Linked DNA regions of Homo sapiens. The protein of the gene in region 6 interacts with the protein of the main gene of each other region in a pairwise test. Each region holds a gene or a part of one and is shown on either strand. Other genes may lie near its edges. The genes, in order: C14orf180, SLC30A3, TSPAN33, STX3, MAL2, SLC35H1 and CREB3L1.

Region 1 (4,025 bases), on a different chromosome or scaffold from region 6:
CATCCCTCAAGACCCAGGGGCTTGGTCAGCCCCTGCCCGAGTGGACACATCCACTCCCAGGCCTGCAGGAGATGGGGAGGTTCCAGGCGCCCAGGACATCCGCTTTGGCCACTGAGGCCGATTCCTTAGCAAATCGGTTCTGGTTTCTCTCATTTCTATAAAAACACCAAGACTGAAGGAAGCCACGGTGTGTTTTAATAAAACAGTGTCTCCCAGTTAAGTGGTGGGACAAACAGGAACCACCGGGTGGATGGTCGGCCGTGCCCACCCGCCTCAGGCTAACCTCGAGGACGCTGGTCTGATTGTCCCTGTGTCTCTCCTGGGCAGTTCTGCCTGGTGTCTAACCGTGGGCCTCCCTGCTTTGTTCAGCCCTCCCCCCACGTAGGGTCTGGAGAGGCCCCTGGTGTTTGTCATCCACAGGGCTCCCTTCAGCTCTGCAATCCGGCGACAAAGCCACAACCACAGACGGTCTCCGGGACCCACAGGCCCCAGCTGGTGGGTGGTGCTGGCTGGCCCCGGGCTCAGCTGGGTGTGCCTGGCCTGCAGAGCTGGGCACAGATGGCTGTTCTGAAGGTCGGGGGTGTCTGGGCCCCTTGCTGTCCCCTCGGCTTCTACACCTGAAGCCGCCCCTGATGAGGGGTCCTTCCCTGGGGCCTCTCCAGACTCACGGGGCTGGGTAGGGGGGTCAGACCTGGGCTCAGAGGATGGCACCTCACATCAAAGGGACCCACCTTGACAACCAGACCCTTCCCTCCCCGTGGGGTTTCGAGGTCTGGATTCCCCACAAGCCATAATCGCAAAAGGCTGGGTTTGCCTCCTCCGAGCAGCCCCTTGAACACGGGCAGTGTGTCCCCCTCCTCAAGAGGGTGCACACGGTGATGGCCGGGCCAGGCCCTAGCAGCAGCAGGAGTTCCTGCTGGGACGAGGGAGGGGTCTTTGGGTGAGCCTGGGGAGCCTCAACTGTTAGCAGTCGAATCCTCTTTCTAATAAAATCTCACATGGACCCAACACAGGAGACAGGAGGGCTGTGCTGACTAGTGTGGCGGGGCCGCCTGCTGTGCCCCCCATGTCCGATCTCACGCCACGGGGTCCCCCTTTTCCTAGTTAGCCCTCAGGCAGCAGCCCCTTTTGGCCCCCATGATTCACCAAGCAGCAGGGCCAGGGCTCAGGCTGTCTCGGAGCCCCCGGAGTGCTTGAGCTCTCCTGGAAGCCCTGCCCGTCCTGCCCGTCCTGCCCGTCAGAGCCGCAGGAGGCCGCGCCAGCAGGTGAGGGCCACGTGCCGCAGGTGCAGGACAAGGCCGAGGAGCCGGGCCCGCAGGTCCTCCAGTGCCGTTGCCACGGGCTTGGCCCGGCCGCAGTATAGGCCCAGGGCCAGCACGAGCAGGACGCACACACACAGCTGCAGGAGCAGGGAGCCGCCGTGTGGCCTGGGCCGGCCGGGCACTGCGGCCAGAGGGCAGGCAGGGTCAGCGCCAGCCAGCGCGACCCTTCCCTGGAGGACTGGGGCTGGTGGGGAAGGGATGGGGAGATTCCACCCTGTCCATGCCCATGGCCCCTCCCTAGCCTCTTGGGGTCTCCTTGCAACAAGAGCTCCCCAACTGGGGACTCCTTAGAGGCCCTGGCCCTGTGACACCTCCCTCGGGGAGGGAGTGAGGGTGGGTGCACCCACGGAGGGGGCAGTGGGGCACAGGGATGTGGGCTCAGAACTCACCCCTGACAGTGGCTGTGGCGTTCTTGTCAGCAATGTCTGCGAAAGAGAATGGAGAGTCAGCTGGGGGCACCTGCCTCAGTCCATCGGGCGCCCCCGCCCTCTCGTCTCACCCTGCACCCCCGAAGGACCCTGAGACTATTCATCAGTGAGAGACCCAGGCCCAGCCGGTCCTGACACTTCCTCAAAGGGACAGTCATGATTTGAGAATCCGCCCTCATGTTCTCCTCCAGTTGCTGTTTCATGGACCGGGACTGTGTGTCCAGATGACCCCAGGGGCCCAGGTCTTACAGGGGTTGTGGCACTGAAGGCAGGTGGCCACGGCCCCCCCATGTCCTGGGCCCTGCCAGAGCTGTGTGGGTGTGGCCGGTGTCCCCGCCTCCCTCTGCTTGACTCCACCCTCTCCCAGCTGCTTGCTGCGGGTGCCCTCTTACAGTGGACGGTCACCGCTGGGGGTTCTCGGAACCACACGCGCCTCGAGGTCCTCTGGGGCTTGGCCTCTGGGCGGTGGTGCTCCGGCCGGCTCCGTTTCAGGATGGAGGGGGGGCACTTCCTGTTGTCCTCCTGGTGTGGGGGCGGGAAGCAGACTGGTGAGTCCCCGGCGGGAGGCCGCTGGTACCCAGGTCTGAGCCATGTGGGGCCCAGCAGCACCGTCCTGGAACCTGTACCCTGTCCTGGCTGGTGCGCTATGCTGGGCCTGTCACTTCCTGTAGGGTGAGGGGCAGCTCCTGGACAGGGACTGCAGGGCAGCCAGACTCAGCCTCAGGGGCCCAGGCAAGACAGGAGCCCCTCCTGACCCCGTCTCTTCACGCAAGTCCCCACTGAACCTCTCTTCGTCTGCCCGCTGTCTCGGATGCAGGCTGCTGGACAGGGTCCCCAGGACATGTGGACAGGGGGAGGGGGCTGCAATGGCAGAGGGGCTCTGGCTAAGGGGCCAGAGTTTGCAAGCTCTATGGGGCAGGGGCCGGGCCAGGGCCGTGAGGAGGGCTGGTTGGTGGCCTCGGCCTCCTTTTCCCTGGGGCCGAGCCTCCCAGGCTGCAGGCGGGGGCAGCTCCTACACATTTGCCTACCTGGGCCCTTTCTCTGCTGGTCTGCTCACGTGTATGGGCCCAGCCTGAGTCTGGAAGATGGAGTGGGAGTTTCGGGCTGCTGTGAACCTCAGCATCCTTGTCTGTGACATGGTGACAACTGGGGCTGAGGCACCCTGGGAGCCGGGCCAGCTCTGAGGTTGTTCCTGGCTGGGGCATTGCTCGCTGTACACAGCCTGCTGCTCGGCATCTGGCGAGGCTGCCCCGCGAGGGCGTGAGGCCTGCCCATGCTGAGTCTGGCCCAGCTCCTGCTGTGCCTGTGGCATGCCCCAGCCTGGCAGTGCCTCAGAGGCTGGATGGAGCCTCAGGGTCTGAGGTCTGGGCCCCTAACCCTAACACTGACCCTTGGTGACAGTCTTGACCTGTCCTCTCTCCACCCTCTTCCCTCCTCCAACACCCTCCTCCCTGAGCTGCCTCTTCCACAGCCCTCCATGGCTCCCACTTCCTCTGCCAAGCTGTGCCCCACCTGGGGGCCTCCAATCTCCTCTGCCAGACCAAATCCTTCAAGGCACCCATTGCCCCCCGCTGCTCCCCCCAGCCCTCAGTGATCCCCCTGCCCTCCTCCTATCACCCCCTGATTCCTGGGGTGGAGGATGGCCTTTCCACGTCTGTTGCTCCCTGCCCCCTCCAGCCCCCAGTGGAAGGCCAGCTTGCAGAAGCTGTGTCCCAGCGGCCCGCCTTACCCTCTCTGCCCTGCACACCCGCGGGCCCCACGCGGCCTCCTCATTCTTTCTGGTCTGACGTCGTGTCTCTGGCCGGGAGTCAGGGCTCACGGCTCCTGCTGCAGTCCTCATTTACTGGAACATGGTCCTAAGATAAGCAGAGACGTTATTTATTATTTACTGCACAAGTGGCACTCAGAGGAATGAAAATAAGAGGAGGAGAAAATTCTTTCCTGGAAGCCAGGCTGGCTTCCCGGGCTTGCGACCGGCCACGCTGTTGAGCAGACACCACTTTTCCTCTGTGGTGTCCCCAGTGCAGGTAAATCCTGTTCCCTGCTCGTTCAGAAATGCCATCGCAAGCAATTTCCTTTGCTGCCACGGTCTTCATAATTATCATCTTTAATGGCTGCATAATATTCCACTGGGCCGAGGTCCCGTCACTGAAAGTCACCCTCGATGATTGGGTATTCATGAGGGTTGCATTTTAGTATTGTCATTTGCAATGTTTGGAGGTCATGGATAAGGCTGCAAGAAACATCTTTGCTTTGTCTCCTTTCGGTAGCGGGA
Region 2 (3,957 bases), on a different chromosome or scaffold from region 6:
TGGGGTGGGGTATGTTCCAGGTAGTAACTAGCTGGGGCCAGTGTGACTCACCGATGGCCAGGTGTGCAGAGGCAACATGGTAAGTGAGCGTAAGGGCCCACAGGTGCAGCTCATGGGTTGCCCGGACTCCTGGCACCGACAACAGCGTATCCCGCACAGGTTCGAACCCCACATTGCGGGGGGTACCTGCAACCAGCACCAGTCATGCCTTACTGCTAGGGCTACTCCTGCCCAGAAGCAGCACCCCCACCACTGGATTCCACCTCCCCTATCCTGTATGCACTCTCCTTTTGACCCCTACAATTCACCCTATGCCCAAATCCTTGTTCCAGCAGCAGACCCCATGAGCCAAGCCTTCTTCCCGTACTATCTTCAAAGAAAAAAGTGATGGCCCACTGCGAGAGTAAAGTCAGAGAGGGCCACAGGGATGGGGAGCTGTGGTGCCCGACTCACCTTCCATGAGGATTCGAAGAACGTCTCGGAGGGTGGGAGCGGTGGATCCAAGGGCACAGATGGAGAAGAGGAAGGTGCTGATGGGGTCGGCTGCCTTGTATTGAGGCTGCAGAGAAAGAGACCCCTAAGCCCAACAACCAGGGACCTTTCAGAGGAAGATCTAGGGGTATCTTGAACAAACATGACCTGAGAGGCCCCTCAAAACCCTGAAGAGGGGACAGGGAACATGACTCATGTCTGGGAGAGTCCTGGGAGGTGGGAGGGAGGAGCTGGAGGGAGGAGGAAGGAAGCTTTGGGACCTGGGAAGGAGTGGGCTGGGATGTGGTTGTGGGGAGGAAGGCTGGGGCAGGTCTCCAATGATGGTACCTTGAAGTAGATGAGGATGGAGGCAGCCAGTACCCCAAAGCTCTGCAGGAGGTCCCCCAGCACGTGCACAAATGCCGCCCGGACGCTGGTGTTCCCCAGGGGCAGGGGCTCTTCAGGCCCCTCCTCCAGCGGTGCATACTCTGCTCCCCTAGACCCGTGGCTGTGGGGGGGCCCAGCCTGGTGCAGCACAAAGGCCATTCTGAGGGGTAAGCAGAGCACCTCAGCCTAGGGCCCTGCTCCTGGCCTCCTATACCCCCATCTCCATGTCTCACCTCCCCAGTAGCCCTTTCCCAGCCCCTGGAAGAAAACAGCATTTTGCAAGAGAGATAAACAATGCAGCCTGGGGGAAAGAATACCAGACTTGGTGCCACACATGTGGATTCGGAAGCTGGCCCTGTTACTTAAATAGATATGTGACTTGGGCAAGTCACCTGTTGGGATTGACTGCATTAATGGTAAACTAGGGGTAATGCTACCTACCTCATGGGGTGGCTGTGAGGTTTAAATGCAATCATGTTGATGAAAGCCCTCATCAGAGTGGCTGGCCCATGGCAGGCCCTTGACAGAGATCTGCTGACTGAATTTTAGGTCTCTATCCCAGACCCTTCTCAGGCACACGCAGGGCAGCCCATGGAGAGCTGTGTGTGCGTGTCTGTGTGTCTGGTGGGGAGGAGAGAGCCAGCTCTCCCATCCTGGAGGAAGACCCCTCGCCCTGGGCCCCACAAGGTGCCTGCTCCATACTGGGACGTACAACAGGTTGGCACAGACTGCGATGCTGGCGGTCAGCAGCATGGCACCCCCCTCGATGTGGTAGTCGCTGTGCAGCAGGCGGACGAAGGCCAGGTACAGGAGGATGCCAGTGACCATCCAGAGGGAGACCACAGAGGCCAAAGCCCCCAGAGTCTCTGCGGGTGGGGGGGGAGACAAGCTGTCAGAGACCTGCTTGGGACCCTGACGGGTGCCCTCTGGCAAGATTGGAGAGTCACTGGGCCATGCAGGGGCCTTACCTGAACGGTGCCAGCCAAAGGTCATGGTGCGGGTGGCTGGACGGGTGGAGAGCCAGAGGGAGAAGAGGCTGCCCATCATGCTGCCCACATCCGCCAGCAAGTGGGCTGCATCGGTCATGATGGCCAGGCTGTGTGCCAGATACCCGCCTGCCAGGGTGAAATGATGGAGTCTGCTTCCATTTAGAAAATATCATGTAGTGTGTATAGGCATGGAAAATAAATTGGGGGATATACACCAAAAATGTGATTTGGGGTTTTCTCAGGTGATGGGACTACAGGTATAATTAACTACTGTTATGTTATTTTTTTCATTCATCTGTATTTTATTTTCTACAATGATTTATTTTAATAACAAGAAAATAGGGTTTTTAAAAGAAGTCAGCCCTGACCTACTGGCCCCGGACCTCGGCTGGAATTCCCTTTGTTGCTGTCCCTTATCCCTCCTACTTCCTGAGTCCTGGGCACCCAGCTCCCCTATCCCAGCCATCCCCATCTCTGCATCTGCACCCAGGAACATTCCTGGGACTCTGGGTGGAGAGTGGCTTGGGCAGGTATTTGGAGAATGGGGTTTAAGGGCTGCTCCCCAACTTACCGACCACCTCCCCAGCCATGAAGACAAAGCAAACGGCACAGGCAGCATATAGCTGCCTCCGTGCATGCAGCCTCTCAGGGGTAAGGCCCGGCGGCGGAAGGGGGTCCCTGTGGCAGTGGTGGAAGGGCATCTCCACAGGTTTGGACTCCTCAGGGAGGGGCTCTGAGGGCTCTGTGAAGAGACTGAGGCAAGCAACATGGTTCAACCTGGGCCTGGCCCACAGGCTGGCCTGCTCACTCCACGTCCTTAGTCCCCAGTGCTGGCCTCATCAGACCATCTCCTTCCCCAGGCCTGGTCGTATCTGGGAGCTGCATCGGCAGAGGGCCACATGAGAGACCGGGGCTAAATGAACAGGTCAGAGCCCAGCCTCCCTTTTCCTTCCATACACAGAGCCATAGAATTTCACAGCTGGAAAGCACCTTACAGACGGTCTAGTCTAACTTTTTTAAGAGATGGGGTTGGCCGGGAGTGGTGGCTCACACCTGTAATCCCAGCACTTTGGGAGGCCAAGGCAGGCAGATCACAAGGTCAGGAGATCGAGACCATCCTGGCCAACATGGTGAAACCCCATCTCTACTAAAAATGCAAAAATTAGCTGGGTGTGGTGGCACGTGCCTGTAATCCCAGCTACTTGGGAGGCTGAGGCAGGATAATCACTTGAACCAGGGAGTTGGAGGTTGCAGTGAGCCGAGATCGTGCCACTGCACTCCAGCCTGGCAACAGAGTGAGAGACTGTCTCAAAAAAAAAAAAAAGAGATGGGGTCTTGCTCTGTTGCCCAGGCTGGAGTGCAGTGGTGTGATCAGAGCTCACTGCACACTTGAGTTCCTGGCCTCAAGCGATCCTCCTACCTCAGCCTACTGAGTTGCTGGGATTATAGGTGTGAGCCACCGCACCCGGCTCTCATCTAACATTTTATTAAATAAATTAGAGGCATGAGGCTCACAGAGTTGGGGGACACATGGAGGCCAACCCAGTTAGTTGCTAGAGCTGAGACTAGACCCCAACCAATTTCTTATGCTAGGCACCCCAAAATGAGCAGGATTCCTACTGATCTCTGAGAGCTTTTGGTGAACAGGGCAAGCATGTACCTACACAATGATATAGAGCGAAGGTGGCCACTGTCATTAGGGCAGTTAGAGTGCTATCAGGGTTCTGAGGATGGAGGGCCAGACTAATTATAACGAGGAAATCAGGGAAACAGCTGTAAGAGGTAACATGAGAAGGGCCTTGAAGGATGGGAAGGATTTTGATAAAGACAGGTGAATGCTATGCCAGGCACGCCAAGGCAGTATGAAGGGAAGGTGGAGTGAAGTGTGGAGTGGGACTCAGCATGTGTTCCTGGCCTTGGTGTGCCTCCTTTCCAGGCCCACCTCCCAGAACCTCCACTCCTGGATCCTGCCCCCGCCCTCCCTAGACATGAAGCTGAAGTGTGGCCCTTTAAGAGACGAGCGGGACATTGGGGCCAAAAAGTCTGATTCCGGGCACAGAGAACTGATGGCTAGATTCCAGAGCTGGGGTTGTCATGGGAGGAAGGGGTG
Region 3 (4,025 bases), on a different chromosome or scaffold from region 6:
AGGTTTTGGAACAAAATTATGCTGTTCCTAGATTGGAACTGGGACTCTTTCGACCTAATTTAGAGCAGAGGGCGAGGCTGTGGGAGGGTGGCAATGCATCGGTTGAAGGAGACGCGCGTGTGGCGGGCAGCAAGGGGGAGGTGTGTGGCGTTTAGGAGAGTCTCCAGTGCCGTCCTCTGCAGGGCCCTTCTACACCTCCCCTTCCAGTTGCCAGAATGGAAAATTCATGGAGTCCCGCGTAGCCCAGGTCAACACGCTTTTATTGCCACTTCTGGCTCCCCTCGTCCCAGCAAGATTCCTACCTCTTACCCTGTAGGAATACTGAGCTCCGATGCAGGGGAATGGGGTGGGGGTGTTACCACTTCTCCTCTGCACACTGCCAAGTTAAAGAAAACCCTGCTTGCTGGAGAGGGAGGGCCAGACAGGGAGGAATTCAAGGGCATGTATGGCTCAGTCCCACTTCTGACTGCAGAGTATAGGGACCAGGGTTCCAAACTTTTTTTCGAAGTAAGGGAGGTGGGGAAGAATTTGGCTGCTGTTGTACCCCGTGTCCTAGCTGCCATGTTTCCATGGAAATGAAGGCGGGGCAGGATGTAGCTCACTCTGACTACCTGGGAGGATGGCAGGACAGGCATTTGGTAAACATATCTCCCTCCACTCCTACCTAGCACATACGGCTGTCCCCAGCCGACCCCCAGGCTCTCTCCTCACTGCCTGCTCCACTCCCTTCCCTTCTGGAGCTGGTATCATGCCAAGTGGAGTCCAGGCAGGGCTGCCAGTGCTACTCTCCACAGCCAGGTCTCACTGGCACGTTAGGATCTAAGTATGTCCGCCAAGCTCAGGAGCATCCCTGCTAGAGCTGGTGGTGGCAGTGCCTCGGTGAAAAGGCAGCAGCAGTACCCCCAACTCTCTGTGCAACTGCTGTTTCCCAAACAAAACTGAAAACATAAACCCAAACACTTAAGGGTATCACTCTGGCACAATGCTGAGGGCTGGGATGGGGGAGAGGAGGCGCATCCTCCTGAGACTGGAGCCACCTGTGCACCCTGCCTTCTGCCCATCTGGAGTTTGCTTCTTCCCACTGGGCTGTCACTGGGGGGCTGGAATCCAAATCTCCATTTGGTGCTGCTTTCAGCACCCACTGCTGTTCGTTTATGAGGCTTGCCAGTTTCCATGGTGAGGAGGTGCAGGATGGATTCTCAGTACCATGGGTCAGCCCGGTGCTGCTGGTTGTAGAGCTGTAGCTTGATCTGATCTTTGATCTGATTCACTAGGATCTGGGACAGCAGAATTCCCACCAGCTGGGAGAGGCAAGAAGGAATTGGGCACTCAGCAGTGAGTGATGGCCTTGTTTTCCCTGGCTCGATCTTCCCAGTGCGGCCAGCACTATCCCTTTCCCTACCCCTCAGCCATGTCAGTGCCTGACACCCTCGCTGATCCCCAGGTGCCTTCCCCAAAACAAAGGAGTCTTTACAGAGTGTGTGGGACCAACAAGTCTCACAGGGTAAGTTACCTGGGGGATGGCCAGGCCTAGAGCCACACCACCAAGTAAGAATAGGTTGCTGTGTATCCAGTTGACCAACTTGTCAATACAGCCATTGGTGTAGATGACTTTGCTAGCTTCCAAGTAGTCAAAGGCCTGCATACCTTGGCCACACATAGTGTTGATCACTGCCTGGGGAAAGAGTTGAAAAGCCAATTGGGACTGTAATTCCAATAACTTTTTGTTTGGGGCCTTAGCTGATGGGCTTCCCACCCTTCCCAAACTCCTAAATTGTCAGAGAATATATGTGGAGGATATTGGGTTGGAAGTTGCCAAATGCAGACTTCCCTTCCTCTGAGAGGTCAGGATCCAGGTCTCTTTGCTCTGGGTGGTGGAATAATCTGTACAACAAACCCCTAAGACACAAGTTTACTTATATAACAAACCTGCACAGGTACTGAATCTGAACTTAAAACTTAAATCTGTCCCTTCTGAACTCCATGTGGACTACATGAGTATGAGGTTAATAGAAGCATCAGGTTGGGGTGAAGAAAAACACCTGACAGCTGTCCCACATGACTGATCGGTGAAGCTAGGGGATGGGGATCCCCAGTAGCAGCTGCCCCCATCAGAAAGTGACTCAGCTCGCTGCCTAGGAGGAAATGAGGCAGGATGCTGGCTCACCTGGTCAGGAGTAGGCAAGCAACAGGAGTAAGGCACAGAGCAGCGCTCTCGACTGGGGTTGTCTTCTGAGCAGTTGAAATACATGTTCTGAGACCAGTCCTTGTAGGAAATCCCTCCACAGCAGCTAAACTGCAACAAAACCCACCAGAGGTTAAGAATCACCCACCCCTCACACTGAGGTGACCAGGGGAATTCTCAGAGCCACCAAAAGTCTATAGCAAGCTTCTACTGGGAACTTTAGGTTGTGTTTTAACACAGCCTTAAACTTTGAGCTCCAGCTTCCCAGTTGCCTTCGCCTGAAGATATTCTCACTTCTTAATTTCTATTACTTCGTATATCTTGTTATAACTTACCACTGTGCTTGTTGGTATTACAGTTGTACATATATTTTGTTTTACATACTCAGCTATAATCTTCTTGAGAGAAGTTTCTGGCTTTGCAGGCAAATGGAAGTGATCAAAAGTATTGGCTGAAATAATTACAGTATCAGTGCTGAAAAACTTCTCCTTAAGATAGAGAAAACACAGGGGAGGAATCTTCAATATTGTGAGTCAATCATTACTCCATGAGAGCCAACTGGATCTCAAAGTCAAGTGTCTATTGCACCAGAGGAAGGGGAACTCAGGACTTGTCTCAGAAGCACTTTTACTTAAAAGTTAACTTTTTTGGCCAGGTGCTGTGGCTCACACCGGTAATCCCAGCACTTTGGGAGGCCGAGGAGGGCAGATCACCTGAGGTCAGGAGTTCAAGACCAGCCTGGCCAATATTGCAAAACCCCATCTTTACTAAAAATACAAGAATTAGCTGGGCGTGGTTTGGCAGGCACCTGTAATCCCAGCTACTCAGGAGGCTGAGGCAGGCAGATTCACTTGAACCCAGGAGGCGGATGTTGCAGTGGGCCAAGATCACGCCATTGTACTCCAGCCTGGGTAACAGAGCAAGACTCCGTCTCAGGGAAAAAAAAAAGTTAACTTTTATTTTTCACTTATTTATTTTTGAGACGGAGTCTCTGTCTGTCACCCAGGCTGGAGTGCAATGGCATGATCTTGGCTCACTGCAACCTCCAACTCCCAAATTCAAGCTATTCTCGCACCTCAGCCTCCTGAGTAGCTGGGACTACAGGTGTGCGCCACCAAACCCGGCTAATTTTTGTATTTTTGGTGGAAACAGGGTTTCATCATGTTGGCCAGGCTAGTCTCAAACTCCTGACCTCAAATGATCTGCCTGCCTTGGCCTCCCAAAGTGCTGGGATTACAGATGTAAGCTACCATGCCTGGCCTAATTGTTAACTTTTGATTCATAGCAGCCTTGTTCACAGTAGCCGAACGGTGGAAGCAACCCTTTTCTCCACTGGTGAATGAATGGATAAACAAAATGTGGCATATACATACAACAGAATATTATTCAGCCTTCAAAAGGAAGGCAGTTGTGGCACATGCCAAAACAGAGATGAAACTTGAAGACATGCTAAGTGAAATAACCCACTCAAAAAAGCATTAATACCGTGAGTCCCTTCATTTGAGGTACCTAGAGTTGTCAAATTTACAGACAGAAAGTAGAATGGTGGTTGCTGGAGGAGAGGAAAATGGGGCTTTAGTGTTCAATGGATACAGAATTTCAGGAGAGGAAAATGGGGAGTTAGTGTTTAATGGATACAAAGTTTCAAGAGAGGAAAATGGGGAGTTAGTGTTTGATGGATACAGAGTTTCAAGAGAGGAAAATGGGGAGTTAGTGTTTGATGGATACAGAGATTCAAGAGAGGAAATGGGGAGTTAGTGTTTGATGGATACAGAGTTTCATCTGGGGCAGATGAGCGTTCTGGAGATGGTGGTGATGGTTGCACAACAATTGAAGGTAC
Region 4 (4,025 bases), on a different chromosome or scaffold from region 6:
ATTTTTGTATTTTTAGTAGAGACGAGGTTTCGCCATGTTGGCCAGGCTGGTCTCGAACTTTTCTGGCCTCAAGTGATCCACCTGCCTGGGCCTCCCAAATCGCTGGGATTCCAAGTTTGAGCCACAATGCCCGGCCACCTACATACATTTGAATAGTCATTTTAGAGATATATAAATGCAAGAGATATCATTCAGTCTACAGATATTTCTTGGTGGGCTAGGCATACCACCTTCCCATACCCTCACTCCCCCCATTTGGGAGAGTATAGTTCAATGAAGCTACTGTCATAGATTCAGTTCTTCCAGAGCCTAGAAGGTTTACTTAGTTCTGTTGCTAGAGCCTGCATTCTTGCCCAGTGTATTTGGTGCATGCATGCTATTGATCAGAAGAGAAAGCATTATTGCTCAGCTCAATTTACCATTTCTTCCCCCCAAGTATATTGCAATAACTATTTTAACTGGAGGAGTCATTAGTAGCAGATTCCAGTAATAACAGTGATAGTGCACCTGCCATTGTGCTAGGCACTTTATGTGTCTTCTCATTTAATCTTCACATTAGTATTGTGAGGGAGGGACTGTTATTCTGTTTTACAGATGAGAGAACAGGTACATTAAGAGGGGTTAAGTGGCTTTTTCAAAGTCACACCCAGTAAGTGCCAGGGCAAGGATTCAAGCCTAAGTCTCATGGTGACCAGAACCCATGCTGTTAACTGTTATGCCAAAACCTGGTCATCGTAAAGGCTGTGGAATGCACGTCCTGTGGCTCATCTGGGAGCTGACCTTTTGAGGTGACACCTACCTGTTACATCTCCGTGGGCTGGATGTGTGGGAATGAGTGAGGAAGTTTCACTGAATAGCATGTTTCTTGGAGGCGGAGATAGGTTGCAAGTATAACCTTCCTCTCCTCTTTAGGCATGGAGAAGCATATTGAAGAAGATGAGGTCAGGTCATCGGCAGACCTTCGGATTCGGAAATCCCAGGTAAGACTTTTCCTGGTCTCATGATTAGCTAGTCCAATCTCTTATTGTTTTCCCTTAACTGTGGAGGGATTTTTTTTTTTTAATACAATCCTTATTTTGAAACTCAATTTGAAGACCTGGTAAAGGAGAACTCTCCAGGTTGAAATAGGGGTCAGGGCCAGAGTCCAGCCCTTTTGGCTCCTCTCCTGTACTCTCCTTCTCTAAGGAGGCCCCTGAAGAGCTTTTCAGGCTTCCTAGAGCACAGCTTAGGATTTAGCGTGCCTTCTTGTTTTACAGGAGAGGAAATTAATGTCTTCTAACAATTGTTAGTCATTGGTTGTCCAGTTTGGAGCTAGGCACTTTAGGGGTCATCAAAGATAGGATCCTTGTCCTTAAAGAACTGGCATGCCATTGAAGCGGCATGGAAAGCTATTACCTAAGACCCAGCAGGAGGATGCGACCCAGCAGGAGGATGCGATAAGAAGACACATGCATGGTGCTCTCAGCATCAAAAGATCTCAGGAAGAATGGGGGGTAGCCAGAGGAGGCTGGGCCAGAGTGCCAACATGAGCAGCCTCAGGAAGTAGTTTCCCCTCTCTGAGAGGCACAGGGGCAGGAGTGAGGCACGCACATATGTGTGTGTTGGCAGCAGTGGTTGGTAGTGGTGGTGGGTAGACGTAAGGGGCAGACGTGAAGACAATAGGCTTTCTGTAGAAAAAAGTTTGCTGTGGGATAGTGGACACATAATTTTTAGTAGATAATGTAGTGCCACATTCTAGAGGTCTTTGAGGACCAGTCTGGGGAATTTGGATCTGATGTTATAACTTACAGGCATTTGCTTCAGGCGGCAGTATATTAGGAGGATTATTATGGTAGCCATTTGAAAGCCGTTTACAAGTGGGAAAGAAGCAGGAAACTGGAAGGTCCCTAGTTAGGTTTTTGCAAGGGTTTTGGTCTAAATTTGTATGGTGGTAGTGGGTTTGGAAAAAGTATATATATTGGCGATTTTCCAAAGGAGAAACCAGTAAGTAGGGCTTGATGCTGAGAGGTGAGCAAGGAATAAAAATTATTAGGAAGGTTTTAGCTTAGGCATGCAGGGCTGTTGAGATAATGCATCTACTTATAAGCAAGAAGAGTTGGGGAGATGAGTTTAGCGTAAGAACTCAAGGATCTTTGGTAAGTATGACATGTGGGAAGGGAATCTGACAGTTTTAGAATGCAAGCCAAGTGTTGTGCCAGAAAAATGCTACTAGTCCATGTGGATGTAGGGCTCAGAGATTTAGAGATGACCTCTGGCCTCGCAATTACCACGTGAGGTCAGCAGTAAACCGGTTTCAGTAAACTGGTGCTGAAACCATGCTCTGGAAAGGGCAGTGGACTCTCCCAGTGGCACAAAGCTAGGAAACAAAAAACTTGGTTTGACACCTGGTTTTTTGATTCCAAGTCCAGTGCTATTGTAGATGGCTATGTGGGGGTGGGGAGGGGTTCTATAACAGTTACAGAACCACTGGGGCCTGACTGCATTTTACATCATCCCACAGCACTCTGTCCTTTCTCGGAAGTTTGTGGAGGTGATGACCAAATACAATGAAGCTCAAGTGGACTTCCGAGAACGCAGCAAAGGGCGAATCCAGCGGCAGCTCGAAATTAGTATGTACTTGAGGTTTGGCGTGTGCCCTCCACCTTTCCTGCCACCTGGTTGTCCATCCCAAGTTTTGAGGCCCTGGTGGAGCAAGCAGGAAGCACATTTTGTGCCTAAGTCTAGGGCAGCTCCTGCACCACTGGCACATCCCGAATGCTGTGCTGTAGGCTGAAAGGTGACACCGTGTTTATCAGGCCCAAGTAATTTTATTGTATGGGGTCCAGCATTGTCTCCTATATAGAGGGGAAATGCTTGCCAAACAGTTGCTCTCTTGTGGACTCATTGTATCATTTTGCTGTCTGTTTGACAGCAAAGCACATTTAAGAAATAAAAAGTGTGGTGTAAGTTGCTGGGAGGATAAAAGTATGGTGTAAGTTGCTGGGAGGATTAGAGAAATAAATAAAGCCATACCCTTTAGGAATGTAGTAATGTGGAAGGCAGGGCCCCGTGGAGTGGAAGGTGCTTTGGATGAGAGGAATGGTATGAACATAATCAAGAAAGAGCAAGTGTGTTTAGGAGTGGCAGGTTGTCTAGGGTCTGGAGAAAGGGTGTGTCTGGAGTAGCATAAGGTTAGGATGGATTGAGGGAGGGCTTGCCCATGAACTAGCATGTTATGAGGGCCTTGGACACCATAGTGTAGTGAATGGGGCAAGGAAATGTTCTGAGCTGGGAAGCAATGTAATGAGATAAGTGCTTTAGGAAGGTAACTGCTGATAGTGTTAAGGATGGCTTGGATTAGGGCAGAAATAAGATGAGTCAGGAGGCAATTGGGGGAGTGTTGTAAAGGCCACGGTCTTTATAGGGAAGTCACGTTCCTAATTTTCAGGGTCCTTATCAGATGGTGTTTCACCGTGATCTTATATTTGACGCTCTACTTCTTTTGTTACAAAGCTGGCAAAAAGACAACCGATGAGGAGCTGGAGGAGATGTTGGAGAGTGGCAACCCGGCCATCTTCACTTCTGGGGTGAGTGCCCTGTGTGCTCGGATAGCACATCCCTCTCGTGAGCAGGGAGGCCACTGCGGAGCTCATGCAGTCCAGCAGGTGGAGGGGGAGCTGCAGGTGCAGGGAGTTCAGGGAGGCAAGGAGCTCCCCAGGAGCGTGCATGAGGGCTGTGGCAGGGGCAGCCTTTCTTGCAGGGGTAGCTAACAGTCTGTGTGTGGCCTGTTGTAGATCATTGACTCACAGATTTCCAAGCAAGCCCTCAGTGAGATTGAGGGACGACACAAGGACATTGTGAGGCTGGAGAGCAGCATCAAGGAGCTTCACGACATGTTTATGGACATCGCCATGCTGGTGGAGAATCAGGTAAGTGGCAGTGAGTCCCAGCGTGGGGAGGGAGGAGAGGAAAGCTCAGGGTCTACTGAGAACAGGGAGAAAGGGAATACTGGAAGCCAGTGAGGTAGGGTGGGAGAACCATTGGGA
Region 5 (3,930 bases), on a different chromosome or scaffold from region 6:
ACATTTGTTCAATCTGTTCACATTCTGGGCTCACTTAAGTATTTGTGAATCCCTAAGCACTGTATTTAAAAATTCAGCATGAAGTTCTGTTCATGTAGTGGCTTCACAGCCAAGGAAGCCAGCAACTATCAGAACCTGAGGATGCATCAAATAATTTCTATGATGATGGAAGGTAACTTTAAAACTCAACTAAGACAAGTGGAAATGAATTATCAGGTTGGCTTGCTCTTGTATGGGAGACAGTCCTGTGTACAAATCTGCACTCTACTTGGAATTAATGAGAATTTCTTCAGCACCAACTGTGTGTATATCACTATACTTGGTACATATAAACAAACAGTAGATAATGTCCTCACCCTTTTGGGGCTTATGATCCATAGAAGACTAAAAGACAAAGCAAAAGCAGTTCAACATGATAAATGTTTGATAAATGTTGTGGGTTTAGCACAGGGATTCTTAACCAGGAAACCAGTTCTGGGAAGGAATACCAGATTCACCTATAGACCATTTTCACAGTTTACTATTCTGCTTTTCTTTCCACCCTTCTTCTGCTGATTTTTTCTCTGATACATTTCTAATCTAGACATTGTTTTCTGAATGACAGCAATAGCTTTTGATACCTATTTTTTGATACCTATTATTTGATACCTATTATTAGGGAAAAGGAATTTTCCTCTCTAATTTCCCAAATGGATGGCTAATACATTTTAGTTACAATAAAACTCAAACTAGAGATTTACTTAGACTGGAGTGAGCATATGGATGAAATGGGATGTAATGTTGAACTTGAAGCATGTAGAGGTTTACTGAGACAGCTTCACTTAGAAAGGGAAGGACAACAGGGACAAAGTCACAAAAGAGAAGCAGCCAGAACAGAACTACATTATGGAGAACACGGAAAACTAGGCCCTTAGGACAAAGGTGACAAATTAAAGACCTCAGACAACCATCACGTATTTCAGCAGCTACTATTCTTGTGAAAGTAGGTTCTAGGGTGACTGTCAATAGATTTGGGGCTACTTCAATGATCCAAGATACAAGAATCTAGCCTGCACCGTTAAAATGAAGGGACTGGAAGTAAGAAACACATAAAGGCAAATACAATGGGAATTGATGACTAATAGCATAGGAAAGTCCCTGAACTTTGCTTTGTAAAGCTGTTAAAACCAAGGGTTTTCTAATGTGGATCACAAGGATTCTATCATCCTCAGGGATGATATGGGTGGGTAGAGGCAGCTTTATGAAAAGAGAATGAGCATCATTCAAGGCCCTCTTCCTCCACTTCAACTAGAGCACTTACACTTTTATCTTCTAGATTTATTGGGGTTTTAGGTAAGAATTGATTAAATAAAACCTTTATTTCTTTTATAAGCAAGTGTTAAAGTCATGAATCTACACTATAAACCTTTCAAAGCTAAAACCATGACTCCTTTTTGTTGTAATCCCACCTTCAGCCTAATTCATTGCAGGCACTCAATAAATTTTGACAAATCCTACCAGAGACTTGGGAAACTTACAATAGGTCTTGAAATCATTTGTCTTGTACCCCTCAAAACTCACTCTAGACATGTATTATCTAACATGATAGCCACTAGGCACATGTGATTATTAAAATTAAATAACACTAAAAATTCAAGTTCCTTAGTCATACTAGTTATCTTTCTCTCCCCCGACCAGAGTCTTGGTCTGTCGCTCAGACTGCTCTGCTCACTGCAACCTCCGCCTCCTGAGTAGGTAGCACTACAGGCACAAGCCACCAGGCCTGGCCAATTCTTTATTCTGTTTTTTTTCCTTTTTCAGAGACAAGGTTTTGCTATGTTGACCAGGCTGGTCTCAAACTCTTGGCCTCAAGCAGTCCTCCCACCTCGGCCTACCAATGTGCTGGGATTACAGGCATGAGCTATGATTCCTTGGCCTAGTTAATTTTCAACTGCTCAATAGCCACATGAAGCCAGTGGCCACCATTTTGGACAGCACTTACATGAAATATTCCTGTCATTATAGAAAGTTCTACTAGACAGTGCTGCTCCAGACAGATTTCAATGACTATATGAGTACTGGGTTATTTATAGGCTACCTGGGGAACATAATAAAACATTAGGGTCACTAACTTGCCATATACTTATATTAAATATCACAATATTTCAGAAACTAATTTGGACTTCTGACATCTTAACAATGATCTCTAACAACAAAAATAATATATTATTTCCTCAAATTATCTACACAAAATGACAAATTCACTCCAGTATACGAATTAAAGATGATTTAAAAAATTTAATAAATACCCCAAGGAATATATTTCATCTGCCTATCATCTACTGCAATGGCTGGCATATTTGCCTCCCTTTCTCACCTGCACTTTCCTTAATGGCAGGAACTGCAACTTATTCACCCCATCCTCAACACCCAGCAAAATTACTTGATAAATGGTAGGCCCACAGTAACTATTCATTCAATAGAAATAAATTGCAAGCAGCTATTGAATACTAAAGAACAAAACTGGAAATCTCCTTTACCATCTCTGAAAGTTATCAGAAGCAAAAAACACAACTCTTTTTGCAAAGTAGACACTGCTGTGCAAAGCCAAGCAGTCCTACTGGCTTGCTATGATCTTACATGAACATCAACCTCTTCGTGCTACAGTTTAATCATCCACAACACTGGGGGTGATCATGGCACTTTGCTTACAAGGTTATTGTACAGATAAATAGCTATTACATATTTAATGCCAATGGCTAGCATTGAAGAAAACTATTGTTGCCTGAGGAGTTTCTTGGAGGCCTTGACAGTGGAGCGGAAGTGCTGGTGAATGGTACTCATTGAATATGAATACTTACTGAGGCTGCTACGTTTATGTTATACTGGTTATCACTCAGGAGTGGCTGCCCGGTTATGGTTGTATTGCAATGCAAATCATGCAGGGATGTGGCTGCTGCTTCCAATAAAAAGGCTCCAAAATAGAAGACAAATACTGTAAAATGGTAGGCAAAATCCTAAAAGAGGAGAGAAAAGACATCTGCAATTAAAAAAAAATATTTTTCTGTTCCTTATTTTAAATAATGAAGTTTAGGTTTAGCAAGATCAAAACATTTAATTAAACAATCTTAACTATATTCACTGTTAAGCTTAGCTGCTTTAGAAATGTTAGACTATCAGAACCCAAGCGAAAATCAACTGACCCATCTTAATTGGCACATTGGTAAACCTTTCCATATACTGAATTTTATAATATGTAATTTTATTTTTTTATTATTATACTTTAAGTTTTAGGGTACATGTGCACAATGTGCAGGTTAGTTACATATGTATACATGTGCCATGCTAGTGTGCTGCACTCATTAACTCATCATTTAGCATTAGGTATATCTCCTAATGCTATCCCTCCCCACAACAGTCCCCAGAGTGTGATGTTCCCCTTCCTGTGTCCATGTGTTCTCATTGTTCAATTCCCACCTATGAGTGAGAATATGTGGTGTTTGGTTTTTTGTTCTTGCGATAGTTTACTGAGAATGATGATTTCCAATTTCATCCATGTCCCTACAAAGGCCATGAACTCATCATTTTTTATGGCTGCATAGTATTCCATGGTGTATATGTGCCACATTTTCTTAATCCAGTCTATCATTGTTGGACATTTGGGTTGGTTCCAAGTCTTTGCTACTGTGAATAATGCCGCAATAAACATACATGTGCATGTGTCTTTATAGCAGCATGATCTGTAGTCCTTTGGGACCCAGTAATGGGATGGCTGGGTCAAATGGTATTTCTAGTTCTAGATCCCTGAGGAATCGCCACACTGACTTCCACAATGGTTGAACTAGTTTACAGTCCCACCAACAGTGTAAAGGTGTTCCTATTTCTCCACATCCTCTCCAGCACCTGTTGTTTCCTGACTTTTTAATGATTGCCATTCTAACTGGTATGAGA
Region 6 (4,025 bases):
AGGGGGGGTTTTGTGGGTGTGTGGTGGGGCAGTGGGAAGGCACGCAGTGCACAAGAGGCAGCAGCGTGGGTGGTGGGAGGCCAGGTCAAGAGGGCAGAGGAGGAACAGTGCAGGAAGAGGGGAGGGACTTGGCTTCCAGACATGCGGGTGTCTCTCTTGTTCTCATCCTATGGTTCCCCAGCCCCTCTTCCTGCTCTGCCCTCACTGAGGTCCCCCACCTACCTGTGGGAGCCACTCTTCTGAGGTAGTCGGCCCAGCTCAGCACCACACGGGCCCTGTGGCTGGAGCACTGAACCAGCGCCCTGGACAGGGCGGAGAAGAGGAAGATCACGGCCAGGTGCAGCATCGTCATGAAGAGGGGGAAATGGAAGCTCTGTATGGAGCCCAAAGCAGACACCCCGGCTTGGTTTAGACAGCCTGCCCCCCACCGGCTCCCTCTTCCTCTTCGCCCCTCTGCTGGAGTGGGGCTCATTCGGTGGTTCATGAGGACCTTGCTATGTGTGTAGGGCCCTTAGTTACGGTATCATCGCTTGGAATGACAGACTCTTAGGTCACGAAGACAGGTGGCAGCCAAGAGACTCAATCCTAGCCTGGTGCTGTCTCCACCATTTCAACACACCTGTGAGCTACCTGCCCAGCCTTCCTCACGGCCTATGCCCAAGTGAGAGCCACTGCGGCCCACTACGTTGTATCACTTATTAAAATATTGAAATACTTCTCTAGTGGGGTAAATAGCTGCTGCTTGAGCCCCAGTTTCCCCAGCTCATCCCTTCACACCCCCCGCTCTCCTTGGTTTCCCTGGATCCAAACACTGAAGGGGAACCCTGGCACGGCAGGCTTGGAGGGCCCTGTTCCAGCCCAGCCGTGACTGGCTTCCAGTTAGACTGGTTGAAGCTTGTGCCTTCCTGTTAAACATGAAGGGCACCGTAGCCATGGCTCTGGCCACCTTCATCCCAGCACCCCGCCCCAGCAAGGCCTCCTGGTACCTTTGTCAGCCACTTGTTGTAGAAGGTGATGCCGATGGAGAAGCAGTAGTAGAGAAGCACCAGCCCCAGGGTCAACACCGCCTTCCACAAAAAGGCCACATCGAGGGCCCACCTCCCCATTCGTGGCGGCTGCAGCACCGGAGCTCCTGAGTCAGCGGGGGCAGGCACCCCTCTTGAATACAATGTGCAGGAAGAGCCGGTGGAGTTAGACCACAGCTTTCACCAAGAACGTCTCCAGGCTGGAGGAGCTCTCTGCAGCTCCATGATTCGGAACCATCAGCAGAGCCCCAGGCAGAGTCCTCACCTAAGGGGCTGGTGGCTGGTGCTGACCCTTCCCATGGTTAATTGGATGCAGCGCTCACAGGTCCCAAGGTCTGCTGCTGGGGAAAAAGGGCCGCTCTGGAGCCTCAGGCAGAGACTGTGCTTCTCGTAGCCATGGGTGCCTCTGAAGGCTGCGTGACTCAGGGCTCTGGAGGGGCTGCCCACAACGGCACAGGCAGTCCCAGAGACCCACGTCGTGTCTGCTGTCTTGTCACCTCAAGCTATTCTCCATGAACTGCCACCAAAGTGACCTTTTAAAACACAAACTGATCATGTCAGGCCACTGCTTAAAACCCTTCAGCAGCTTCCAGTGCTTTTCTGATAAAGACCAGCACCCTTCTTTCGGCTCCCATGGCCTCATCTGGCCCTGCTGGTCTTCCCAGTCTCAGCCACAGGCTCTCCAGGACCTGGCCCCACTGGGCGCCTTTCAGCTCCCCAAACACACCAGCTTTCTTCCCGTTGTCTGAAGGAAATGAACGAACACTGCACCCACCCTTCAGTCCTTCATCAATCCTACCTATCTTCAGCTCAGAGGTCACTTCTTCAGGGAACCCCACCCCATCCCCTGAATCAGTCCCCTGAGATACATGTTGCTTTCACGGCTCTCCTACTTCTCTTTCATAGCACTTGTGCAGGGTGTGATTTGAGTAATGTCTGTCCCCTGAGAGGCTACGAGCGGCACAAAGATAGGGACCAGTAAGACCACACTGGCCTTACGCACAGCTGGTGTACTTTAAGTTCTCCGTCTGGTTTGATGACTGACAGAGAGCAGGCATGCGATTTTCAGGGGACTGGTCTGGTCTTTAGGGGTTAAAAATGGAGAAGGAAACCAACACTCTAACGGCTGGAACACTGTAAGACCAGGCTGTAACCACTACTCCCTGGAAGCAGAGCCTGCCTTACGGTATTGCCAAATGAAACCACTCCCAGCCTCCCTGTCAATCCAGCCAACCCTGATGAGTGCCCGGAGCATGCCGGGTAGACCTGTCTGTGCCTGGAGGAGCCTCAGGTCCAGTGTTATGTGATGATACCTGCTGCTTCATCTGGGTGCCCCCCTCAACCACAGATCCTCCTTTGAGACATTCCCATCCTATTGAAACGCCACCTTCTTCTCGAAGCCTTCCTAGGCTTCACGATCAGACACATTCTCCATCTCCCACCCCAACATTTCTGAAGGGAGCAGTTACATTCCATTCTGCACTCTGGAACTCTTGTTACTATTTCCCCTCCCCGGGGCAAACAGGGAGCTGGCTGTGTCCAAATGAATCTCTGGGGCTACAGTTGTCTTCAGAGGAGCTTTGGAAACCTGTGGCGGTATTTTGGGGATATGCTCCTGGCGTTCAGTAAGCAGGGATAAAGAAGGGGCAGTCCACATAGCCAATTACTGCTCTGCATCCCGCACGACTTTGACATCCATATAGGTGAAAGATTAGCTTATAATTATCTGAACCTAGAATGTAACTCTGTTTACATGTAAACACAGTGCAGTGTTTCCATGGTTCTGCTGTGAACTAACACTTCCAAGAATAAGACGCCTATGTACAATGAAGGGAGACTGAAAATGGTCAAAATTGGTCTCAAAATGGCACCAAAAGTGTCCATTCTGGAAAAACCACATCATCTACAGCAATGGCACTAGTGGTTTTCGAGGTGCGACACAACACGGCTGTGTCAGTCTGTGTCTGTGGCCATCACACTCCTAGAGGGTCCACACAGAAGGGACAGCTTCACTGCAACTTCCAGCACTATTGTGCCCAGAAACTTACATATTGAAACATATTTTGTTTTACTATCAATTACTTTCCTTTTATGTTATAGGGCATGGTTATTTATATTTTATTTTATTTTTTTTTTGAGACGAAGTTTCGCTCCTGTTGCCCAGGCTGGAGTGCAATGGTATAATCTCGGCTCACCACAAGCTCCGCCTCCCAGGTTCAAGCGATTCTCCTGCCTCAGGCTCCCTAGTAGCTGGGACTGATTACAGGCATGCACCACCACACCCGGCTAATTTTTTATATTTTTAGTAGAGATGGGGTTTCTCCATGTTGGTCAGGCTGGTCTTGAACTCCCAACCTCAGGTGATCCGCCCGCCTTGCCTCCCAAAGTGCTGGGATTACAGGCGTGAGCCACCGCGCCCGGCTGCATTTGTTGATTTTTAAAAAATTATGTGTAGGCAGTTTTTATTAATCATATGTTTCATTTTAGGGTAATAAAAGGGACTGTTACAAAATATTTGTAATAAAAAAGAGGTGTCAGATCCAATGAGTTGAGACTCCTACCTGACCTAATGCATTCTCATTCCTTCAAATGCCTTCTGTAAGCTGATGTCTTCCCAATATATGCCCCGGCTCTGATTCATGTGAACTCCAGAAGAATATCCAATGCCTACCTAACCTCTTCTTCCCTTAGATATCTAATATCAGGCATCTCACTCACATCTAGAGTGTCTGAAACTGACTCGTGTTTTCCACACCCCCATTTCATCCAAGCCTGCTCCTCTTCCTACTTCCCATCCCAGCAAATGGCTCCACTACTCTCCTAGTTGCTCAGGCCAAAAGCCTTAGGCTCATCTGATTCCTCTCTTCCCCTTAGCCCACATTCAATCAATAAATACCGTCAGCTCTATCTTCAGAAATATCCCAAATATGAGCACATGTCCTGAACTCCACCACTACCATCTCAGCCACCATCCTCTCCCCAAATGACTGCAGGAGTCTC
Region 7 (4,025 bases), on a different chromosome or scaffold from region 6:
CTCCTTTGTGTTCTGGGCATGTTGCACATCCTCCTTCTCTGTAAAAGGGGCTCATGAACCCCCTAAGGTGCTTCTAGCCCTGGGATTCCACAGGATGAGCAGCATCTTAAAATCCCTAGATGGGAGCGTGGCTGGCCCTGCCCCCTGCTGGCCACACGGCTCACTTGCTCTAACTGTACGTGGCTGAAGGCAAGAAAGGTCAGCCCCTCCCTGCCCCACCACAGACCCGTGGGATCAAGGGTCGGCGGCAAATATGCAGGATCTTTTGAGACCATCTCCAAGACTGGCTCTGAGACTCCTCAGGCCTTGCCAAAGCAGGAAGGGATGGAGTGACAGCAGCAGCAGCCAGGGAAGAGGAGACTTCAGAAAGGGAAACTGAGGCTCAAGGGGTTAAGTAATTTGCCCAAAATCATGCAGTTAGAAGCAACTGACATGCCTTCCAAATTCGGCCTGCCAGACCCTGAAGCCCACGCGAGTGAGGTCATAACCCCTAGTGGAAGGCACAGGAGCTGGCATTGTCAACAGTGAGCTCTCTGCACCGCAGTCCCCTCTCTGTCACTTGAGGGCTGAGCTGGGATGTAGACCAAGGAATCTCCAAGGTCCCTGCCAACTTGAACCTTCTGGGATTCTTACTCATCAGCCTACATTCTGGATTCTGCGTCCCACCCACAATATCATGATCTCTCTGGGGCTGCAGCCCAGGGCCTGCAATCCAGCCCCCAACAACGCCTTCCTCAGACAGAGCACCACTTACTTGCATGTTGGTAGTCATGTGTACAAAGCCATGCATGCTCTTGAAGTCCTTTCTGGAACAACAAGTCAGAATAGAAATAAAGAGAAATGCATGTTTGTTAAAAATGTCCATCTGATTCTATCAAGCCCTTACTTCAACCCATTAGGAGCTCTCATTGCCTCCAACTTCTTTGTCTAGATTCTACTTCTATTTATACCCCGGGACTCATTTCAGACTTTGACTTCTCAGGGAGCATCCTCGGAGCCCCCAGCCAATTAATGCCTCCTTCTGTACTACTGCTACCAGCCATTGAACAGCTACACTGTTCCAGACATTACCTCTTGTTTTATTCTCATGGCAACCCACATACCAAAGCCTGTGTGGCCTTCACAGTTGGTGTGGAAGGTGGCCCCACACTCAGAGGCTCACCTTCTCTGAGCTTAAGGTCTGAGCTACACTGCTTGGCCAGCAATCCTTTCTCTTAGGTGTGACTTGGCTTCTTTAAGCTCAAGAGCTTGCCTCTGTTCCCTTGCAGCTGTGCCCAGAACTCCAAGCCCAGCCACTTCCCCAACTGTGCAGGGCAGGCAACCAGCTTTAGGGAGGAGGTGGGTAGATGGCATGGTGGGGACAGACCCAGGGGCAGCTAATGGAGCTGGGCTTGTCTGTTCCTCAGGCCCCGGGAGAGATGACTCAGCTGCCAGTGATCAAAGCAGAGCCTCTGGAGGTGAACCAGTTCCTCAAAGTGACACCGGGTAGGTGTGTCCAGGGGAAGGGCTCTTTTCCCCTCCAGTCATAGGCAGATAGCATCCCCACTTCCTTGGTTCAGCCCATCCCTATCTCTTGACAACCTTCCCCCACCCAGAATATCCTCTCCACCCTGCCCTACCCACTGTCCCTCCATCCATGCCCACTCTTCGTCTAGTCCTCTTCGTTTTTGTTTTTTGTTTGTTTGTTTGTTTGTTTGTTTTTTGAGATGGAGTCTCACTCTGTCACCCAGGCTGGAGTACCATGGCACGATCTCAGCTCACTGCAACCTCCCCATCCCAGGTTCAAGCAATTCTCCTGTCTCAGCCTCCTAAGTACCTGGGATTACAGGTGCCCACCACCACGCCTGGCTAATTTTTGTATTTTTTAGTAGAGACGGGGTTTGGCCATATTGGTCAGGCTGGTCTTGAACTCCTGACTCAGGGGATCCACCTGTCTCAGCCTCCCAAAGTGCTGTGATTACAGGGGTGAGCCACTGCACCCAGCCTTCGTCCAGTCCTCTTCTTGCCCAATCTACTGCTGCCATCGCTCCTGCTTGCCCAGCCTGACCCTATGAGAGAGAGGCCCCAGTCACCTTCTGGGGTTGCTGAGCTAGAGCTTAGTGATCTTCTGGAGTTGCTGAGCTTAAGGCCCTGAACCCTGTGAAGTCAGAGGTCACAGAGGACCTCCCACGAATTCAGCTCCTATGATGTCTATGCCAAGGGCGAGCTTGTAAAGGAGCTGGGCCTCTGTGGTGTCAGATGAGGCAGCACCCAGGAATTGGCTACCCAGATGTCAACTGTCTTTCTGACCCTGCAGAGGGGCTTCTGATGTCATAGCTGAGACCAAGCGCCTGGCAGTCCGTGTCCCACAATGTCAGGGCTGGTGCAAGCTCATGCTCAGCTGAACTCATGATGTCCAAGTGGAGCTGATGTGCAACGTTGCTAACTCGGTTTCCCCTGCTCTCCCCAGAGGACCTGGTGCAGATGCCTCCGACGCCCCCCAGCAGCCATGGCAGTGACAGCGACGGCTCCCAGAGTCCCCGCTCTCTGCCCCCCTCCAGCCCTGTCAGGCCCATGGCGCGCTCCTCCACGGCCATCTCCACCTCCCCACTCCTCACTGCCCCTCACGTAAGGAGCTGGGGGTGGGCTGATCCCAGAAATGAGGAATTGAATACATCCACCTGAGCACACTGGCCAGTCAGGAGGGTTTGGGGAGCCCCGAGACTGATCCCCACCCTCATCAGAATTCAGAGGGATGCTTACCTGGCAGATGGGAGTTCTAATCCTTTTATTTTTGAGTCTTGCTCTGTTGCCCAGGCTGGAGTGCAGTGGCTCAATCTCGGCTCACTGAAACATCTGCCTCCCAGGTTCAAGCAATTCTCCTGTCTCAGCCTCCCAAGTAGCTGGAATTACAGGCACTTGCCACCGTGTCTGGCTTTTTTTTGTTTGTTTTTTTTTTTTGAGATGGAGTCTCGCTCTGTCGCCTGGAGTGCAGTGGCACGATCTCGGCTCACTGCAACCTCCACCTCCAGGGTTCAAGTGATTCTCCTGCCTCAGCCTCCCGAGTAGCTGGTATTACAGGTGCACACCACCACCCAGCTAATTTATGTACTTTTAGTAGAGACAGCATTTCACCATGTTGGCCAAGCTGGTCTCAATCTCTTGACCTCTTGATCTGCCCACTTCAGCCTCCCAAAGGGCTGGGATTACAGGCGTGAGCCACCGCATCTGGTCAGGAATTCAAATCCTTTCGCCCTGCCTCATGGTGAACAGGAGACTATTGCAGAGCCAGGACTAGAACTTGACATTCCTGACCTCCAGGGGATGACCCAGGCTGCCTCCAAGGAGCGCTGTGTGAGGGGAAGTGCCCAGATGGTCCAGAATCCCCAGGAAACATGGAGCTAGGCCCTGAGCCCTGGGATGGGTGTGGAGTCTCCCAAGCCAAGATTGTAGGGAGGGGTCTGAGGGAGATGCTGTTTGGGGCACCCTGGACAAGTAAGCTTTGAGGGTGCAGTCTCAGGGATGGGATCCAGGAAGCCCTCCCGAACAATGCACTAAGAGCCTAACACCTGAGCTCTCAGCATGGCCCTGGCACCTGACACATGTTACTGAATTTCACCCAGATCCACTCCCTTTCCAGATGAGGAAACTGAGGCATAGAGCATTGTGTGCCTTGCCCAGGTCATATAGATAGCACATGGCAGAGCTTGAATTTGAACCCAGGGCTGCCTGGCTCCTAACTACCACATCATACTTCCTACAGAAATTACAGGGGACATCAGGGCCACTGCTCCTGACAGAGGAGGAGAAGCGGACCCTGATTGCTGAGGGCTACCCCATCCCCACAAAACTCCCCCTCACCAAAGCCGAGGAGAAGGCCTTGAAGAGAGTCCGGAGGAAAATCAAGAACAAGGTAAAGCCTGCCACCCTGGGGCTTCAGAGGGCTTCCTTGGTGGGTGGGCTCCCCTGGCATACCAGCTCTGAAATTGGGGGGCCCAGGAAGTGAATATGTGGCAGTGCTAACCCTTGTTTTCGGGCCTCCCCCT

The links.
Region 1: the proteins of SLC35H1 (region 6) and C14orf180 interact in binary tests that used the Homo sapiens proteins (3 or more experiments, as listed by UniProt).
Region 2: the proteins of SLC35H1 (region 6) and SLC30A3 interact in binary tests that used the Homo sapiens proteins (3 or more experiments, as listed by UniProt).
Region 3: the proteins of SLC35H1 (region 6) and TSPAN33 interact in binary tests that used the Homo sapiens proteins (3 or more experiments, as listed by UniProt).
Region 4: the proteins of SLC35H1 (region 6) and STX3 interact in binary tests that used the Homo sapiens proteins (3 or more experiments, as listed by UniProt).
Region 5: the proteins of SLC35H1 (region 6) and MAL2 interact in binary tests that used the Homo sapiens proteins (3 or more experiments, as listed by UniProt).
Region 7: the proteins of SLC35H1 (region 6) and CREB3L1 interact in binary tests that used the Homo sapiens proteins (3 or more experiments, as listed by UniProt).

What each region holds. Positions count from the first base shown.
Region 1 is NC_000014.9:104,585,996-104,590,020, reverse strand, and holds part of C14orf180 (nutritionally-regulated adipose and cardiac enriched protein homolog), read right to left. Parts: intron 3,607-4,025; 5' UTR 3,591-3,606; coding exon 3,480-3,590; intron 2,273-3,479; coding exon 2,143-2,272; intron 1,748-2,142; coding exon 1,712-1,747; intron 1,444-1,711; coding exon 1,238-1,443; coding exon of another isoform or gene 1,143-1,237; 3' UTR 1-1,142.
Region 2 is NC_000002.12:27,256,335-27,260,291, forward strand, and holds part of SLC30A3 (probable proton-coupled zinc antiporter SLC30A3), read right to left. Parts: intron 2,601-3,957; coding exon 2,419-2,600; intron 1,997-2,418; coding exon of another isoform or gene 1,974-1,996; coding exon 1,827-1,973; intron 1,725-1,826; coding exon 1,571-1,724; intron 1,019-1,570; coding exon 820-1,018; intron 560-819; coding exon 454-559; intron 187-453; coding exon 52-186; intron 1-51. UniProt on the Homo sapiens protein: Probable proton-coupled zinc ion antiporter mediating the import of zinc from cytoplasm into synaptic vesicles and participating to cellular zinc ion homeostasis in the brain.
Region 3 is NC_000007.14:129,165,049-129,169,073, reverse strand, and holds part of TSPAN33 (tetraspanin-33), read right to left. Parts: intron 2,297-4,025; coding exon 2,168-2,296; intron 1,676-2,167; coding exon 1,514-1,675; intron 1,302-1,513; coding exon 1,200-1,301; 3' UTR 1-1,199. UniProt on the Homo sapiens protein: Part of TspanC8 subgroup, composed of 6 members that interact with the transmembrane metalloprotease ADAM10.
Region 4 is NC_000011.10:59,789,607-59,793,631, forward strand, and holds part of STX3 (syntaxin-3), read left to right. Parts: intron 1-912; coding exon 913-980; intron 981-2,500; coding exon 2,501-2,609; intron 2,610-3,492; coding exon 3,493-3,566; intron 3,567-3,773; coding exon 3,774-3,908; intron 3,909-4,025. UniProt on the Homo sapiens protein: Potentially involved in docking of synaptic vesicles at presynaptic active zones. Apical receptor involved in membrane fusion of apical vesicles.
Region 5 is NC_000008.11:119,239,231-119,243,160, reverse strand, and holds part of MAL2 (protein MAL2), read right to left. Parts: intron 2,997-3,930; coding exon 2,841-2,996; intron 1-2,840. UniProt on the Homo sapiens protein: Member of the machinery of polarized transport. Required for the indirect transcytotic route at the step of the egress of the transcytosing cargo from perinuclear endosomes in order for it to travel to the apical surface via a raft-dependent pathway.
Region 6 is NC_000020.11:46,357,401-46,361,425, forward strand, and holds part of SLC35H1 (solute carrier family 35 member C2), read right to left. Parts: intron 1,559-4,025; exon of another isoform or gene 1,364-1,558; 5' UTR 1,326-1,363; coding exon of another isoform or gene 1,291-1,325; 5' UTR 1,159-1,290; coding exon of another isoform or gene 1,107-1,158; coding exon 987-1,106; intron 374-986; coding exon 223-373; intron 1-222.
Region 7 is NC_000011.10:46,308,583-46,312,607, forward strand, and holds part of CREB3L1 (cyclic AMP-responsive element-binding protein 3-like protein 1), read left to right. Parts: intron 1-1,406; coding exon 1,407-1,485; intron 1,486-2,449; coding exon 2,450-2,607; intron 2,608-3,742; coding exon 3,743-3,892; intron 3,893-4,025.